4 linked regions of the Homo sapiens genome follow. The protein of the gene in region 1 interacts with the protein of each later gene in a biochemical or structural test. Each region holds a gene or a part of one and is shown in the gene's direction. Other genes may lie near its edges.

The links. Proteins that work in one complex are often made in the same cells at the same time.
Region 2: of the proteins of TRIM25 (region 1) and OTUD5, one has a biochemical effect on the other in vitro, tested with the Homo sapiens proteins (one study listed by BioGRID).
Region 3: the proteins of TRIM25 (region 1) and ERG form a complex in vitro, tested with the Homo sapiens proteins (one study listed by BioGRID).
Region 4: the proteins of TRIM25 (region 1) and AMFR form a complex in vitro, tested with the Homo sapiens proteins (one study listed by BioGRID).

The regions. Positions count from the first base shown.
Region 1 is NC_000017.11:56,890,050-56,895,303, reverse strand, and holds part of TRIM25 (E3 ubiquitin/ISG15 ligase TRIM25), read left to right. Parts: intron 1-3,074; coding exon 3,075-3,604; 3' UTR 3,605-5,254.
Region 2 is NC_000023.11:48,921,524-48,924,065, reverse strand, and holds the end of OTUD5 (OTU domain-containing protein 5), read left to right. Parts: intron 1-13; coding exon 14-215; intron 216-319; coding exon 320-433; intron 434-767; coding exon of another isoform or gene 768-770; coding exon 771-892; 3' UTR 893-2,042; downstream 2,043-2,542. UniProt on the Homo sapiens protein: Deubiquitinating enzyme that functions as a negative regulator of the innate immune system. Has peptidase activity towards 'Lys-48'- and 'Lys-63'-linked polyubiquitin chains. Can also cleave 'Lys-11'-linked ubiquitin chains (in vitro).
Region 3 is NC_000021.9:38,491,978-38,495,477, reverse strand, and holds part of ERG (transcriptional regulator ERG), read left to right. Parts: intron 1-3,500. UniProt on the Homo sapiens protein: Transcriptional regulator. May participate in transcriptional regulation through the recruitment of SETDB1 histone methyltransferase and subsequent modification of local chromatin structure.
Region 4 is NC_000016.10:56,422,746-56,427,017, reverse strand, and holds the start of AMFR (E3 ubiquitin-protein ligase AMFR), read left to right. Parts: upstream 1-1,472; 5' UTR 1,473-1,690; coding exon 1,691-1,945; intron 1,946-2,028; exon of another isoform or gene 2,029-2,107; intron 2,108-2,283; exon of another isoform or gene 2,284-3,348; intron 3,349-4,272. UniProt on the Homo sapiens protein: E3 ubiquitin-protein ligase that mediates the polyubiquitination of lysine and cysteine residues on target proteins, such as CD3D, CYP3A4, CFTR, INSIG1, SOAT2/ACAT2 and APOB for proteasomal degradation.

The DNA.
Region 1 (5,254 bases):
TGTCTCTCCTGCGCCGCTCTGTGCAGCTCTCTGTGAGGCCAGCTGGCCGGCTATATCAGCCACTCCCCTTCACTTGTCCTCTACTTTGTTGCTCCCTTATTTTCTCCCAGTCATCAGTGCCTTTCTTTACTTTTCCTAACTAGCTCAGATTTCACAATCGGTCCTTTGACTCTCCCTCTTGCCGTCTAGTCTGGCCCAATTGAGCTCACCTTTCTCTGTGGGTCGGCGCCTGCATGTCCTCTGCAGAGAAGGCAGGGCGATTGCGGTCACCGGCCTTCACCGGGCGTCCCGTTGCCGGCATGCCTGCCCTGCATCTCCTGTCTCCTCCCCACCACTCTCCAGAGCCACCATTCCCAAGACTTCCCACTGGCCATAGCTCCATCCTTCTCCCTGTCCCGCCCACCTTCTGCTTCACGAAAAAGACAGACACTGTAGAAGGGGCTCCCCCTGCTCTGTTATTGACATCGCATCTGCATCTACTGTGCCCCCTTCCTCGCCTCCTGGCCCCTTTCCCAAGACCCCCTGGCCCTGGGCTCTGGAGTCTGCTCCCCACACGCTCTCTGGAATCTTCTGCTCTCTCTTAGGCCTTTCCATTCCCATCTCTTCACCCTCAGCATCTCTACCTAGGCTTGCCTATCTGTAGCACGTTTACATCTCTCCAAATCACAAAAACAAACCTAGCAAAACTGTCTCAGCTGCAGCTCTGTTTCCTGCCTCCCTTTCACCCGAATGCTTGTTAAAAATACAAATTACTAGCTGGGTGCGGTGGCTCATGCCTGTAATCCCAGCACTTTGGGAGCCCGAGGCAGGTGGATCACCTGAGGTCAGGAGTTCAAGACCAGCCTGGCCAACATGGCAAAACCCCATCTCTACTAAAAATACAAAAAATTAGCCGGGCGTGGTGGCACATGCCTATAATCCCAGCTACTTGGGAGGCTGAGGCACGAGAATCACTTGAACTTGGGAGGTGGAGGTTGCAGTGAGCCGAGATTGTGCCACTGCACTCCAGTCTGGGCAACAGAGCGAGACTCTGTCTTAAAAAACAAACAAACAAACAAAAAACCCCAAAAACCAAATTCCTGGGCCCTGTTCTAGCCCTACAAGATCAGACTCAGGCAAGCACGGAAAGCTGTATGTTTAGCTCATTTCCTCCATGATCCTTTTGAGGACAGTTGGGGAAAAGCAGCTCTGCAGATTTTCTACATTGGTGGCTCTCAACTGTGGCTGCGTGTTGGAATCCTGGGGAGCTTTTTAAAATCCCCGATGCCCAGGCTGTCCCCCAGACTGGTTCATTCAGAATGTTGGTGTTTGGCTGCCCAGGGTTGCAATGTGGGGCCGAGGTGGGAGCCTGAAGTCTAATCCTCGTGCCACTGCATTCTGACCTCTGTCCTGCCCTTGACCCAGGCAGCTCTGAGGTCATCAGGGTACTCCGTGTCACAAAATCCAGGGACGCCTTTCAGCTTTTATTTAGCTTCACCTGTCAGTGGCATTCCTCCTCCTTCTGACACTCTCTCCCCTTGCCGCTTGAGCTGCTATACCCCCCTGGGTTTCCATCCACCCCTCCTTTGCAAGCTCGTCCAACCTGGAAGTGGGTGGAGTTCCGTTGTCAAGGCCAGGCCTAGGGCCCTCCCACTTTCCGTCTTCTTGTTTCTTCTGCACCCACGTGCAACACTCCAGGCAGCACCTGCCAGTGGTACCCACTTCCATGTGGAGGCCAAAGCCAATCACTGAAAAATATAGCCCTTCCTTTATCATAAGCAGCTGCAGCAGGCTTGGTGGGGATCTGTGGGTCCCTTGCTTTTTCAGGGCTGGCCTTCTTGTAGCCCTCCGCTGTCCCTGCCCCCCAAGAGAGGCCCAGACCAGCCCTGGGCTGCAGCTAACTCTTGCCCAAGCTGCTAGCGGCGGTGCTGAGCCACGTCTTTCAGGAGCTGCTGTGCACTCTGTGGCAGCCGCATAAACAGGGAAAGTAAAATTCTATCAACTTAGGGCCTTTTCCACCCCCAGCTTATTCATTTTGCCTTGGGGGAAACTCGGGCTCCAGTGAAAAGTGTCATGCCCTGAGCCACCTAGCAAATGAGTGCCTCGCTTGGCTCCCTGCTGCCCACCAGTTAAAGTCTAGCCTCCTAAGCCCTTCCCTTTCTAGCCCCAACATGTTTCCCTTCTCCTGCTGCATCTGTGTTCCCAGCCACCCAGCTTCCCCGATCCCAGCACATGCGAATCCCCTTGGCACTCCGTGGCTTCACTCTCACTGTTCCCTCTGTCTGGAACAGCTTTTCTCTCTCTGTTCTCCTCTGTCTAGTTCTCATCTTCTGTTACTTGGCTCCAATTCCAGCCTGCCAGTGAAATGTTCCCCAACTGTAGCATCAGTTGCCTTGTCTCTGTGTCCCTACAGTGTGTGCTTACCCTTTTGGCAGAGTGTGAGTCTCATGGTGTTGTTACTGATGGACTTGCCTTGCTTGTTGGAGTGTGAACTCCATGAGGCCCGGCACCTTGTCTCTCTGGTTCATGGTTGTGCATCTTGTGCCAGAATCTGGTGTCAGTCAGGTGCCTGGTAAATGGTTTTGGATGGATGAATGGACAGACATACGGATGACTGATAGATGATAGATGGCTGGCTGGCTGGACAGAATGGATGGATGAATGGATGGATAGATGAGCTGATGAATAATGGATGGGTGGATAGATGGGTGGATGGATAAATGGACAGATGGATAGATAAGTGGATAGATTAATGAATGAATGAATGGATAAATGGAAAGGCAGAAGGATGGATAGATAAGTGGATAGATGGATGAATGGAAGAATGGATAGATAGGTAGATAGATGGGTATATGGATACATGGGTAGATGGATAGATGGATGGATGGATACATGGATGGATTGATGGATACATGGATAGACAGATAGATGGATGAATAGACAGACAGATGGATAGATGAGTGGATGGATGGACCAATGGGTAGATGGGTGCATGGATGGATAAAACTAGTGAATAAATAGTACCACTTTGGCAAAGGTCTAAAAGAGCACTTTGGGCCCCTTGTAATTAATTCCTTGGGGTGATGTTTTCTCAGATTACATTAAAGTCATCCTGGACTACAACACCGCCCACAACAAAGTGGCTCTGTCAGAGTGCTATACAGTAGCTTCTGTGGCTGAGATGCCTCAGAACTACCGGCCGCATCCCCAGAGGTTCACATACTGCTCTCAGGTGCTGGGCCTGCACTGCTACAAGAAGGGGATCCACTACTGGGAGGTGGAGCTGCAGAAGAACAACTTCTGTGGGGTAGGCATCTGCTACGGAAGCATGAACCGGCAGGGCCCAGAAAGCAGGCTCGGCCGCAACAGCGCCTCCTGGTGCGTGGAGTGGTTCAACACCAAGATCTCTGCCTGGCACAATAACGTGGAGAAAACCCTGCCCTCCACCAAGGCCACGCGGGTGGGCGTGCTTCTCAACTGTGACCACGGCTTTGTCATCTTCTTCGCTGTTGCCGACAAGGTCCACCTGATGTATAAGTTCAGGGTGGACTTTACTGAGGCTTTGTACCCGGCTTTCTGGGTATTTTCTGCTGGTGCCACACTCTCCATCTGCTCCCCCAAGTAGGCAGGCTGTAGGCACTTGGGCTGACTGCCTGCAGAAGTCCCAAGACCCTAGTGAAAATACAGCAGGCAGAACTCTCCTTGGATAATTCCCCAAGAGGTCCCAAGGATTGGGAGCATGGGAGGGGAGCTGGCGGGAGGGTGGGAGGTGGGATTTAGCCAGGAAAGGGGTGAGAGTGATTGTGTTGTGGGCGAGGAGGCGTTTCCACCCCCTGGTGCCTATCAGGGCAGGGTGACCTACTCCCCATTGTTCTGGAAATCTCCAGGCTGCTGGGCAGCTGGGCAGAGCTCTGGGAAGTGAAGTCATGAGTGCCCGATTCCTCTTAGAGAAAATCCATAGCTACTGTAGGTTCTGTCTTGGGCCACTTGGATCTGAAGGCTGCCCCTTTGCTCTCTGGGGTAGCCTTCAGATCTTGGTGTTTTGAATTCTTACTATAGATGTTTTTAAAGTTCCAAAGTCATTGAGTTTCAATGTTACATAAACTCCATTACCCGCATGTTGGGGCTTGATCTCCTGGTTATTATCTGTGCTTGAGGAAACACCCACAGCAGTCTCTACCCAGAACAGTTTCCTAAAGAGGCATACCCTCTTCCTCCACTGGAAAATAGTGCGTTCCCTTCCTACCCTGCACACCCATCGCCCCCACATTGATGGTTTTCAAACAGCAAACTTTTCAGCTAAAGCTTCAAACCATGATTGGAATCAGCCTGTGTTGGATTTGTGATTCAGGGTCATGGTGACCCTGATCCAGTTTGGGTGGAAATCCTTCCTAAGTATCATAAGAAGCATCTTGGCAGAGATGCTTTGGTGGCAGCCATGAGCTTTGCTGGAGGCCTTGCTTCCCATAGCCTTGGCTGTGGGGCAAGGAACTCTGCCAGGCGAGGGGGATGCTGCCCTGGATCAACAGAAGCCTGGTGGGTTTGCTCGTGTTAGAGTGTCCTGCCTTCTTACTGACAACTCTTCTCGGTGATAGCCTCTCTTCCCTGGATTGTGACATATGGAATGACAGTGCAGGTACCACCGAGGCTAGCACAGTCAAGCCTCCAGCTAAGCTGGATCCCTGAAGCCTGCTATCATGCAGACAGGCTATGCGGCTGCCTCGGACCATGCTAGGCCACTTGCTGGGGTGTCAACCTACCACCAAAGGGGTCTTTTAGCAAACCTCATGGGGAACAGGAACATTCCTGTTCATCCCTGGCCACAGGCTGCAGACCCAGCACTGGCCCTTGCGTGAGTCAGAGCCTGGGGCTGGCCCTAGCCCCTTCTACTGACTTCCTCATTTAAGCCAATTATATAAGCTCACATTGATCAGGGAGGGAGGGAAAGAGCTAAAGAGGGTCACACAAGTGGCTATTTTCCCTGCAGTGTTTCTGTGTGGTGAAAATAACCCAGTCCACTAAGGGGCGGGAGTGAATGGATGGCTGGATTTTCCCCAAGCTCCTTATAGCCTAATGTTGTCAGGATGTGAGTATGAGGAATTTAGCCTCTTATAGTGAAATGAGTCCAACTCTGGGCTTTGCTTAGAGGAGAGCTCCTGTCAGGCTTCCTATAATATGAAAAGAAGTCACCATTGGGGAACTAGAGACCCCAGACCTTTTCATATGGATATTTGAGAATGTAATGCATCTCAGGCCTCGTGCTGGAACTCTAGGG
Region 2 (2,542 bases), on another chromosome or scaffold:
TTCCCCGCTGCAGCCCCGGAAAGCCAGCGCCACATGCAGTTCGGCCACAGCAGCAGCCTCCAGTGGCCTGGAGGAGTGGACTAGCCGGTCCCCGCGGCAGCGGAGTTCAGCCTCGTCACCTGAGCACCCTGAGCTGCATGCTGAATTGGGCATGAAGCCCCCTTCCCCAGGCACTGTTTTAGCTCTTGCCAAACCTCCTTCGCCCTGTGCGCCAGGTCAGTGACTTGCCCACAGGGAATGTGCTGGGAGTTAGGAGGCACGTCCTGGGTCCTGGGTCCTGGATCCTGGGTCCCTACCTTTGACTGTCCGTCTGCTTCAGGTACAAGCAGTCAGTTCTCGGCAGGGGCCGACCGGGCAACTTCCCCCCTTGTGTCCCTCTACCCTGCTTTGGAGTGCCGGGCCCTCATTCAGCAGATGTCCCCCTCTGCCTTTGGTAAGCCTCCTTTGTCTGGGGGGATGGAGGCTGCTAGGAGCTGGGAGAGACTGGAAGAAGTGGCAAGTCCTGAGAGGGGCTTTCTGGAGCCTCTGGCCATCTCCCCAAGAAAAGAAGGGAGAGGCACTGGAGGGGATTTTTCAGATCCAAGGAATTTGCCCCAGAAGGGTCTGGGGTCTAAGTGGGGTTTCACAGGCCTAGCAGATCCTTCTGTTTTGAGAAAGGAGTGAGAAGGGCCCTATGGGATTTCTCCAGAGCCCCAGATGTCGGCACAGGGTGAGGAGAAGGCAGGCTGAGAGCGCTCCATCATCCTTTTCCTCTTCCTCTCGCCCAGCAGGTCTGAATGACTGGGATGATGATGAGATCCTAGCTTCGGTGCTGGCAGTGTCCCAACAGGAATACCTAGACAGTATGAAGAAAAACAAAGTGCACAGAGACCCGCCCCCAGACAAGAGTTGATGGAGACCCAGGGATTGGACACCATCTCCCAACCCCAGTACTCCTGCTCTCCGGTGCCACCTCACCTTCTTTGGCTTCTTCCCTCTTGCCTCCTTCTGTTCTTTCTGCTCTCCCCTCTTTTCCCTCCTCCTCACTTCCCTCTGGCTAGCCCACCCCTGCACTCTCTCTCATTGCCGCTGCCACTATCACCTGTCTCTCTGCCAGCTGATGTGCCCTGTTGCCCCCCACCCCATCCCGCACAGAACCATCCCTGCATTCCACAGGGGACTCGGGCAAGGGTGCCGAAGATAGACAAGAGGCACACAGAGACAGACCAACTGGCAGCCAGGCAGCCCCAGAGGAGAGAGACATTCAGACAGAGGAAAGTCTCCCTGCCCCTCATTCCTTCCAAGATGAGAAAAACTTGCCGCCACCCCCCGACACTGATGCCAGGGAGGTGGGAGGAAGAAGTGGGAAATTTCCCTTCCCAGTACCCCCAAGAACGTCTGAGCCTTCAATGTTGAATTTTTTCTTTATTAAAATTACTTTTATCTTATAAAATCAACTAATCAAAAATGATATAGACGACAGCACTGGCTCTGTGAAGGTGGCATCTTTCTGGGCAGGCAGGCCATGGGGCATGGAGGAGGGTGCAAAGATATGGGTTGCTGTCTTCTGGCCTCCAGCTGCATGGAGGCCGGCCCAGGGTCTAGGGTGTGCACTGGGCAAGGGCAGGGCGGCAGGTGTCAGGCCGGCTTGGACAATGAAACCCTGACCTTGCTGCATTCCTTTTGCTTCCACCACCACTAGCTTCTTTGGAATCTTGGGGTGGGGGTCATCTTTGGGGATTATGGCTGCCACCCGGGATTTGAGTGTAGGGAGTGTGGGAGCAGCCTTGGCAGATGGGGCACCCGTGCCCTGCAGGTGTTGACAAGATCCGCCATCTGTAATGTCCTTGGCACAATAAAACCAAATGTCAGTTTCCCTGAGCGACTCTGTTCTGTGTGGGGCAGGGGTTGGGCGGGCCTCTGGGCAGAGGATGCAATGGCACGGACCTTGGCTTGACCTCAGAGGTGTGAATGCTCTCCAGCAGGGTCTGTCTGGGGGCCTGGAGTTTGTATTTGATTTGCTGCTTATTAAACCTCCTTCTGGACCTATTGCCACTGGAAAAGCTGCGTCTTTGCCTGCTGACCCCACCCCTGCCTACCCTATTTCCTGGGGGGGGGGGGGTGATGGTAGCAGAGGACTGTGAGCTTGAACTTCCTGCCTGAATTCCAGCTTCTCCGCCTGCCTCTCACCATGAATGCTGCTCTTTCCTTATCATGATCTGATGAAGAAAAGCCTTGGAAAAGTGCAACTGATACTTTGTAGCAACATGAGTTTAGTGGAAGTAACCAGAGGGGCCTCACCCACTAGGTTTTAGAAGGTGAAGGACGGCTAAACCCTTTTTTGTTCTTGTCCCCCAGTCTGACACCTCTTTGCCTGTCCTCCCTAGGGGTAAATCCAAGGTAAAGAAGGCTGGCTGGCCCCCAGGTTTTCTCAAGCAGCTTTTTCACCATGCCATGATAATGGAGACCCTCTGACAGGATGTGTGTCTGGTTCTGCAGTTGAGGGCATGGCTAGCTGAGTGGCTGTCTGCGGAGTGTGTCTGGAACCCAGTGGCCAAGCATC
Region 3 (3,500 bases), on another chromosome or scaffold:
GCAGCAGCATCAGGGGAAAGCATCTTAAAAATCAGACAGGACATGGAAAGTTACTAACAAGGCTTGGTGGAGACCTGAGGGCACCCTAGTGCTATTTCCATGACTTGCCTAAAGAAGTTACTTTTTTTTGAATTAACAGAGGTTGGAAGGTTTGATGGTAATTGAAACACGACCTGATAGGACTCAATTTTATTAATTTAAAGACATAAAGCTTGCATTATATACGCCACGTCTGCACATTTGCACTTCTTGAACGTTTGCTATCACATGTGAGGGAAACTTAATTAAGACTAAGAGTTATATGAAGAAAGTTAACTCCTCACAGAATTTTGATGGATGTGATTAATGAGTTTAATAGCTACAGATTTATGATTTTTCATCAACCTGTTGGCTAAGTGAAATACGAATTGCGTCAGTCCTTGTTACTTTAGGGGGATTCCGGGAGAATGGAAGGAAGGCCAGGGGCAAAATGCCGCTGCCCTGCTGTGCATAAGTCATTTCAGAGCATGCTCTGAGTGTTTGTCCTTGCCGAAAAGTGGCTTTACAGGCAACTACTTTAAAACAACTTGCTGCTTCCGTTCTTGGTCAGCTCTGTGATCCAGGCTGCCCTCTGTGGACACAGCACAGTTCTCCCTGGCCCTCTGCCTGTGTGTGCATGCACCCATGCATGCCAGGCACCCTGACTCAGTGACCCTGGAAAGCAGGATTGAGAATGGCTCCATCTGTGGGCTTTTCTTCCCCCATGAAATACAGTGCAGGACTGCAATGCTCTCAGACAATGTGCTGAGCCTGAACCATTTCTTAATTATCTACGTTTATAAGTGATTATCTCATAAAGTTTTTGTTTTGCAAAACAGATCTTTATTTAAACACAAACACAGGTTAACAACTCTTGAAAAAGCATACATAAAAATAAGTAAATGAAACAACCATTTCTGTTGTCTTCAGGAAAATATGACTGATACATTTAGAACTTTAGAATAAGATTCCCTCTGTGGGAGTGGAGACCCAAAGCCATTATAGGCATCCCAACAATTTGGCGGATTTATTGGTTTAACAGCTGATACATAAGAGAATCACAGAGTAAGGGCCATGGGGAAGCCAGACGGATGAGAGTTTCTCTGAAATGAGAAACCTCAGAGAAGAGACAGGGACAGTCTCCAGGCTGTTCCAGCGTTTGGTAGCACACTGTGCTCTGGCGGGGTCTTTTCTTTGGAGCTACCTCAAGGAGAGCCTTCTTGTCCCCTCCTTTGACCCCACAGGATAGAGGACAACTGCTCCCTGGCCTGGGGATTCTGTCAGACCACCCCTGATAGCGCTTCTCTCACCTTACGTGGCCGCAGACACACTTGCATTTGCTTCCTTCCTGTTGTGACCCTGGGCAAGGTAGCTAGCCTGTCTGATCTCAGTTTCGTCACCTGTAAAATGGGATCATAATGGCTACCCTGTCTCGCACCCATCCTCAATAAATGGCAGATGCCATCAGACGCCCCCCCGCGGATGTAACCTTTTCTACCGTATTGTCTTTCAGGCTCTGCACTCACTCGTCTCAACATTTCCCACGGCCCAGCTTCAGCTGTGAAGCCCACAGCCATAGACTGCTCTGATGTGCGGCCTCCCACACCCAGGCAGGGTACATCTGGGTCTGGGCAGCCACAGGACAGGGAAGGAAGGAGGAGGGAGCTTGCAGGGGTGCTTGTTAAAGGTGTAGCAGGGCAGGTACCACACACAGGGGCAGGTGGAGCGTCCAGGGGTCGCCCGAGGTGGTGCTGGTCAGAGAGGGTTGGCTTCGTCCTGTTCTGAGCCGAGGCTGCTGGAGGAGGGCAGAGGCCTATGACTGCATCGTGCTCCTGGTTAGGGCAGGAACAGCACCCTGGAATACCCCACTCTCCTCTTTACTCCTGAATTACAAAAAATACATCTTGTTCTTTAGCATAAATTATAAACATAAAAAATTCTTATGGTAGAGAAAACGTTTAAAAGTCATCACAAAGTCAATATAAATTGTTCAGATCCTAACCAACCACAGCAAATTCCTAACAATTGGGATATGTCTCTCCACCGTGTGTATCTGTTTGGCCTTGTATCTACCTACCTGTCCTGCTCTTCTCAGTTAGCATTGTTTTACAAGCATTTTCCCATGTTACTAACATTTTTTGATAAGCAAAATTTTTGTTTCATTATATTCTATCTAAAATATGTATTACCATTTTATAACCAATATCCTAGTGTATAAAGTGATGCTGCTTGCGATGTTTCACTCATTATATTGCAGTACACCATCTATTTAATTTTTTGAATACTTTTTATTAGTATTGGTGCCTAGAAAGGAATTATTGAGCCAATGGGTATATATATTTTTTAAGTCTTTGCCAAATTTAAATATTTGCCAATTTAAAAAATAATTACCAGATTATTCTCTGGAAGGATTATACCAGTTCTCCCTTTTTCTAGCCACATATGAGACCAGTTCCACACTACACCCATAACAACTCTGAATATTTTACTCTTTGAATCTTTGCCATTCTGACAGATAAGAACAGAATCTCATTTTTATTTGTACTTCTTTAATTTTAGTATTTCATTACATTTTTTTGTTTGTTTGCTGTGAACCCATTTTGGCTAGTGGTCCACTGTGACCTCTGGATTTTTTTTCTTATTTATACTTTTATTCTCTGTTTGGTCTAGCTTACTTTCCACATATTTCCCCTACTGAGCTTGGCCAAGACATGTTTTATAAAATTTCACATCGATTCCCATCTGTCCACTCTCCCACTCTTCATTTTCTTTCCTGTCAGCACATTCTCCCAGCTTTGCTTGTGTTTGTTGTTGAGTGTGAATAATTTATGTATACCCACTGATATCGCAGAAGCTGTTTTTAGTGATATCTTATCCATTTCTTCTGTGTCCTCAACAGTGACTGGCAAAGAGTAGAGGTTCAATAAGCACTTGTTGAAAACATAAACTTAAATTTTAATTATTTGAAATCATAAAGAGGAAGTTAAGATATCAGAGTAATGTAATTATCATTGTAGACTTCAAATAGAATTCTTATGTTTTTAGAGACATTTCTCCTAGTAAAATAACGTTAATTAAAATTGACTTAAATTGATGTTTAAGAAAGTATAAAAAATGTAGCTGTAGTATCTTGAATTCATAATCCAAACTAACATCATCCTAATAACTGCTTGTTATGTGCCAAGTCCTGTGCTAAACTCTCATAATGTCTCATGTGATCCTCACAGCAGCCTGGGTACTGCTGCTTTCTTACAGATAAGGACAAAGGATTAGAGAGGCGAAGTATCTTATACAAGTCACACAAATCTGTCTCCCTTCTCTTTATCATCTGATCTCTTTTTTCCTGCTATTCACCCTAGCTGTACATAGTGAATTACTGTGCAGAGAAACATGATGTATTAAGTGTTATGGAGACACATGAAATAATTGGATAATGAAAATTATTATCGCTGGTTACTTTATGTTATCTACTCTTCTGGGAA
Region 4 (4,272 bases), on another chromosome or scaffold:
TTGGAAAATCCTACAAATATTTACAGAGCACCTACTCTGGGCTGAGAACTCTTACAGGCCCTGGGGATGCAAAAGGAATAAAACTCCCAAGGTAACATTTTTTTCCTTTGGTAACAGCTTATTGAGATACAATTCGCATATTGAGATAGAACTATTTAAAGTGTACAATGATTTTTCAATTCAGAGTTGGGCAATCATCACCTCAATTTTACATTTTCATTACTTTGAAAACAAACCTATCCCAGCCAGTGACTCACGCCTGTAATCCCTGCACTTTGTGAAGGCAAGGTGGGAGGATCACTTGAGCTCAGGAGCCACAGACTGGTCTGGACAACATAGCAAGACGCTGTCTCTACCAAAAATTAAAAATTAGCCAGGTGTGGTGGCATACGCCTGTAATCCCAGCTACTGGAGAGACTGAAGCAGGAAGATTTCTTGAGTCCAGGAGATGGAGGATGCAGTGAGCATGCCACTGTACTCTAGCCTGGGCCACAGACCCTGTCTCTTAAAAGAAACCTGCACCCTTTATCACCCCCTACTCCCCTCTTCCTCCCATCCCTAAGCAATCATTAATCAACTTTCTGTGTCTGTATATGTACTTGCCTATTGTGGACATTTCATATCAATGGAATCACACAACACGTGGACCTTTGTGGCTGTCTTCTTTGACTTAGCACGTGTTTAAGGTTCGTTCCTATTGTAGCATGTATCAGTAGTTCATTTTTATGGCCGAATAGTACATTTTATGGATGTATCACATTTATCCACTCATCGCTTGACGGACATTAGCGTTGTTCCCATCTTTTGATTGTTAGAATGTAATCAACATTTGTGTACAAGTTTTGTGTGGAGGTATGTTTCCACTTTTCTTAGAGGAGTGGAATTACTGGGTCAAATGGTCACTCTTGTTTGACTTTAAGGAAAGGACAGGTTATTTTCCAAGACAGCTGCACCATTTGACATTCTCACTTCTGGGGTATGAGGGAACACATTTTTATTTCCCGCTAAATCAGGTTCATTTTTTAGTTTCTGCTGGAGGCTACTAGCAAACAGCAGAAACTTGAAAGACTGTTAATATTCTTTCTTCTGGGGTTTCGGGCACCAGGGAAGCTGCGCGGCCCCTAGGAGTGCTGGGGGTAACCTCTTCAGAGGGTTAATGGGGTGGGGGGGGGGCAAGTGGCCGACGGCCTGGTGGCCAGGGTGCCCCGCGCCCTGAGGCCCTGCCCGCCTGCCAGCGCCTGCGAGCCCGAGTGACCCCTGCGCCGCGGCCGGAGCAGGTGCCCTCTGTGTCTGCGGGCCCAGCCAAGCCGTGGTGCGGACGGCGGATGATGCTGGGTGCCCGCCCCCCGGCCTGAGGCCCGGGGCTACGCCCGCTAGGCGGCGGCGCGACCGCTGGGGGCGGGGGACGAAGGCCGCGCCCCTGCGCCCGTCCCGCCAGCGTCCCGCTGGGGGCGGCGGCCTGTCCCGAGCCCGCCCAGGCTCTTCCGCGCCGGCAGGGGCAGCAGCGGGAGCAGCGCGGGGCGGAGCGGCGCCAGCAGCCAGGAGCGGCCCGGCCCGGCCCGGCGCGGCGGCGGCGGCGGCAGCGGCAGCGGCAGCGACGCCAGAGCCCGTGGGCGCCGTTCGCGAGGCCGCCGCAGAGGCCCGGCCGCAGCGCAGGGAAGCCTGGGGGCCAGAGGTCGCCGCTGCCGCCATGCCGCTGCTCTTCCTCGAGCGCTTCCCCTGGCCCAGCCTCCGCACCTACACGGGCCTCAGCGGCCTGGCCCTGCTGGGCACCATCATCAGCGCCTACCGCGCGCTCAGCCAGCCCGAGGCCGGCCCCGGCGAGCCGGACCAGCTAACGGCCTCGCTGCAGCCTGAGCCGCCGGCGCCCGCCCGGCCGAGCGCCGGGGGACCCCGGGCCCGCGATGTGGCCCAGTACCTGCTCTCAGACAGCCTCTTCGTGTGGGTGAGCGAGGCGGCCGGGCCCGCGGGGCAGGGGCGGGGTCCGCTGCGTCACCCTTTATCCGCGGGGGCGTGGTGGGCCTAGGGGCCCCTCCGCCAGGGACCCCCGAGGGCGAGCGCCTGGGGGGCGCGGCCTTGCTCGCGGGAGCGCTGCTGAGGGAGAGTGGTGAGGCGCGGGGAGGGGGAGGGGGCCGCGGGCGGGAGGAACATCGCGTGGGGTTGCGAGGAGGAGGCCCCGAGGGGCAGGCCAGCGTTGAGGGCTCCGGGAAGGGGGTCGGGGAGGCGGCGGGTGATGGTCTGCGCTGGGGCGCGGACGGGGCCTGGGGCAGGGGAAGGGGTTAAGGGGCAGTGGGGAGGAACGGGCTGGGTTTTCTGAGGGACCCTCGGGAGAAACTAGAAGATCTCAGAGGGCAGGTTCAAGGGGAGGTCGGGATCTGGGAGTGCGTTATCCCGAGGGTTGGACGAAGTAGAGTGAAGTTGAAAGCTTTTCCCACTTGGTCAGGCATGGGATTGTTAGCGGATTTTCTTCCGACGAAGAGGAGAGGGCAGAGGGGAGAATTCAGACGTTGAGTATGGGGGAATTTTCGGCACTCAGGTGTCTTTGGACATTCCGGTTGGAGAGAGGCCGTCTCCCACAACTTTTTTGCCGCTTAGTATTCGATTGTCCCCTTTGGGAGCTGTGTAATGAAACAAACACCAAACTGTGCTTCCTTTTCTGCTGCCTTTACCTGATGTTCATGACAGTTTTCCTTTGATGTCTGAACGCAGCAAAACATTCACAGTGTCAAGAGGCAGCCCATCATTTTAACTGAATGTTTCTTATTTGAGGATCTATTCTAACACAGTTTCCAGGTTGTCTGCCCCTGCGAGATAAGCAGCATTGATAAGGCACACATGCTGGTTTCGTTCATTAGAACAGATAATTTCAGACTGATCAGATCAACGGTATTTTGGCTAGAGAATTTTGCTTTCATCTTGGCCTTGAATACTTATGTAAATCCCGCAGTGATCAGAAAAGTTTCTCCAGGATTTAAAGCCTCACTTGGATTTAATATGGCTTCTTGGATCTTGTCTCCTTGCATGTTCCCATTTGGGGTTGAAAGTGGGCTGTAAATGACTGAGAGATTAATATTCCAAGTTGATAGTATGATATGCAACTCATTTGTTATAATTAGTCCCACTGTGCTTCATCAGGAAGCGGTGGGATTTATGGACTCTGTGGGCTGTAGATTAAGTCTCCTGGTCCTTCTGATGGAGAGTTTAGTAGAAGGCAGTGAAGGGTGAAGTTCCTGTTTATCTACTGCTGTGTAAAGCTGAACTTTACAGTCCTAAAGAAGGGAGAAGCGAAAGAACTCAACTCACATCTCTTGCTTAATTTCAAATCTGTTTTTGCATTTGAGTTAGCAGGTAAACAAAGTGATATGGAGAGTGTTTTTGCCATGTTAAGATTATAATGTAGTCTTTGATATTTTTTAAGTCTAAGATATAAATAAGCCTTTGAGAAGGAACCCTTATTTTATTTATATAACAACACTGGTATTGTTTAATGGATTTCCCCCCGCAGGACTTTATTTTGATAAAAGCCATGTTCAGATTCTAAAGTTAATATCTCTTCAGAAAACATTACATAAAAGCTGTTGATTTTTCTGTGATGATGATTACTTTTTAGGAAATTTCCTTTTCTTCCAGCATTTTCAGTAGAGGTCTTACCTCTGGCAGGTTTATCACTTCTTACTCTCCGCTGATGATATTTTCATTTCTCAGTTGATCCTAGTGCTGTTTTTCTTCCATCTTTCCTCTGGGGTCTCCACGTGTTTACTTTGGCCTGCTTTGGTTTCTCAGACCCTCCATGTGCTCACTGTTTGTCTCATCACTCAGTGTATATGTAGTTTCTGCTTTAGCAGCTGAGTAGAAGTGACAATCTCAAAAGCCTTCCCCAGTGGTGGGACAGATTAAGATTGTTGAGTGAATACCCTATGTGGTGGTGCCTTTGTCAACTGGATCCTCCTTGCGCCCTCCCCTAGTTCTATTGAATTCAGATTCAACTTTTTCACGAACACTGCCTGCCAAGGCCAAGCAAGACAAAACAAAGACTGATCCTTCTGCCAGTGCAAGTCCTGCTAGATATTAACATATTGTAATTCCCAAAACTTATCTTTTTAGAGCACAGTTTAGAATAATATCGGTCTGATAGCATCACAGGAGGTTTTTCATGAACAAACACAATTTAAAACCTTTCGAAGGTGTTATTTTGGGCACTTTGGAGGGCATATCTGTGAACAACACTTTCCCCTACCCTCAGTAATATGGCAAAATTTTATAGGGGATAAT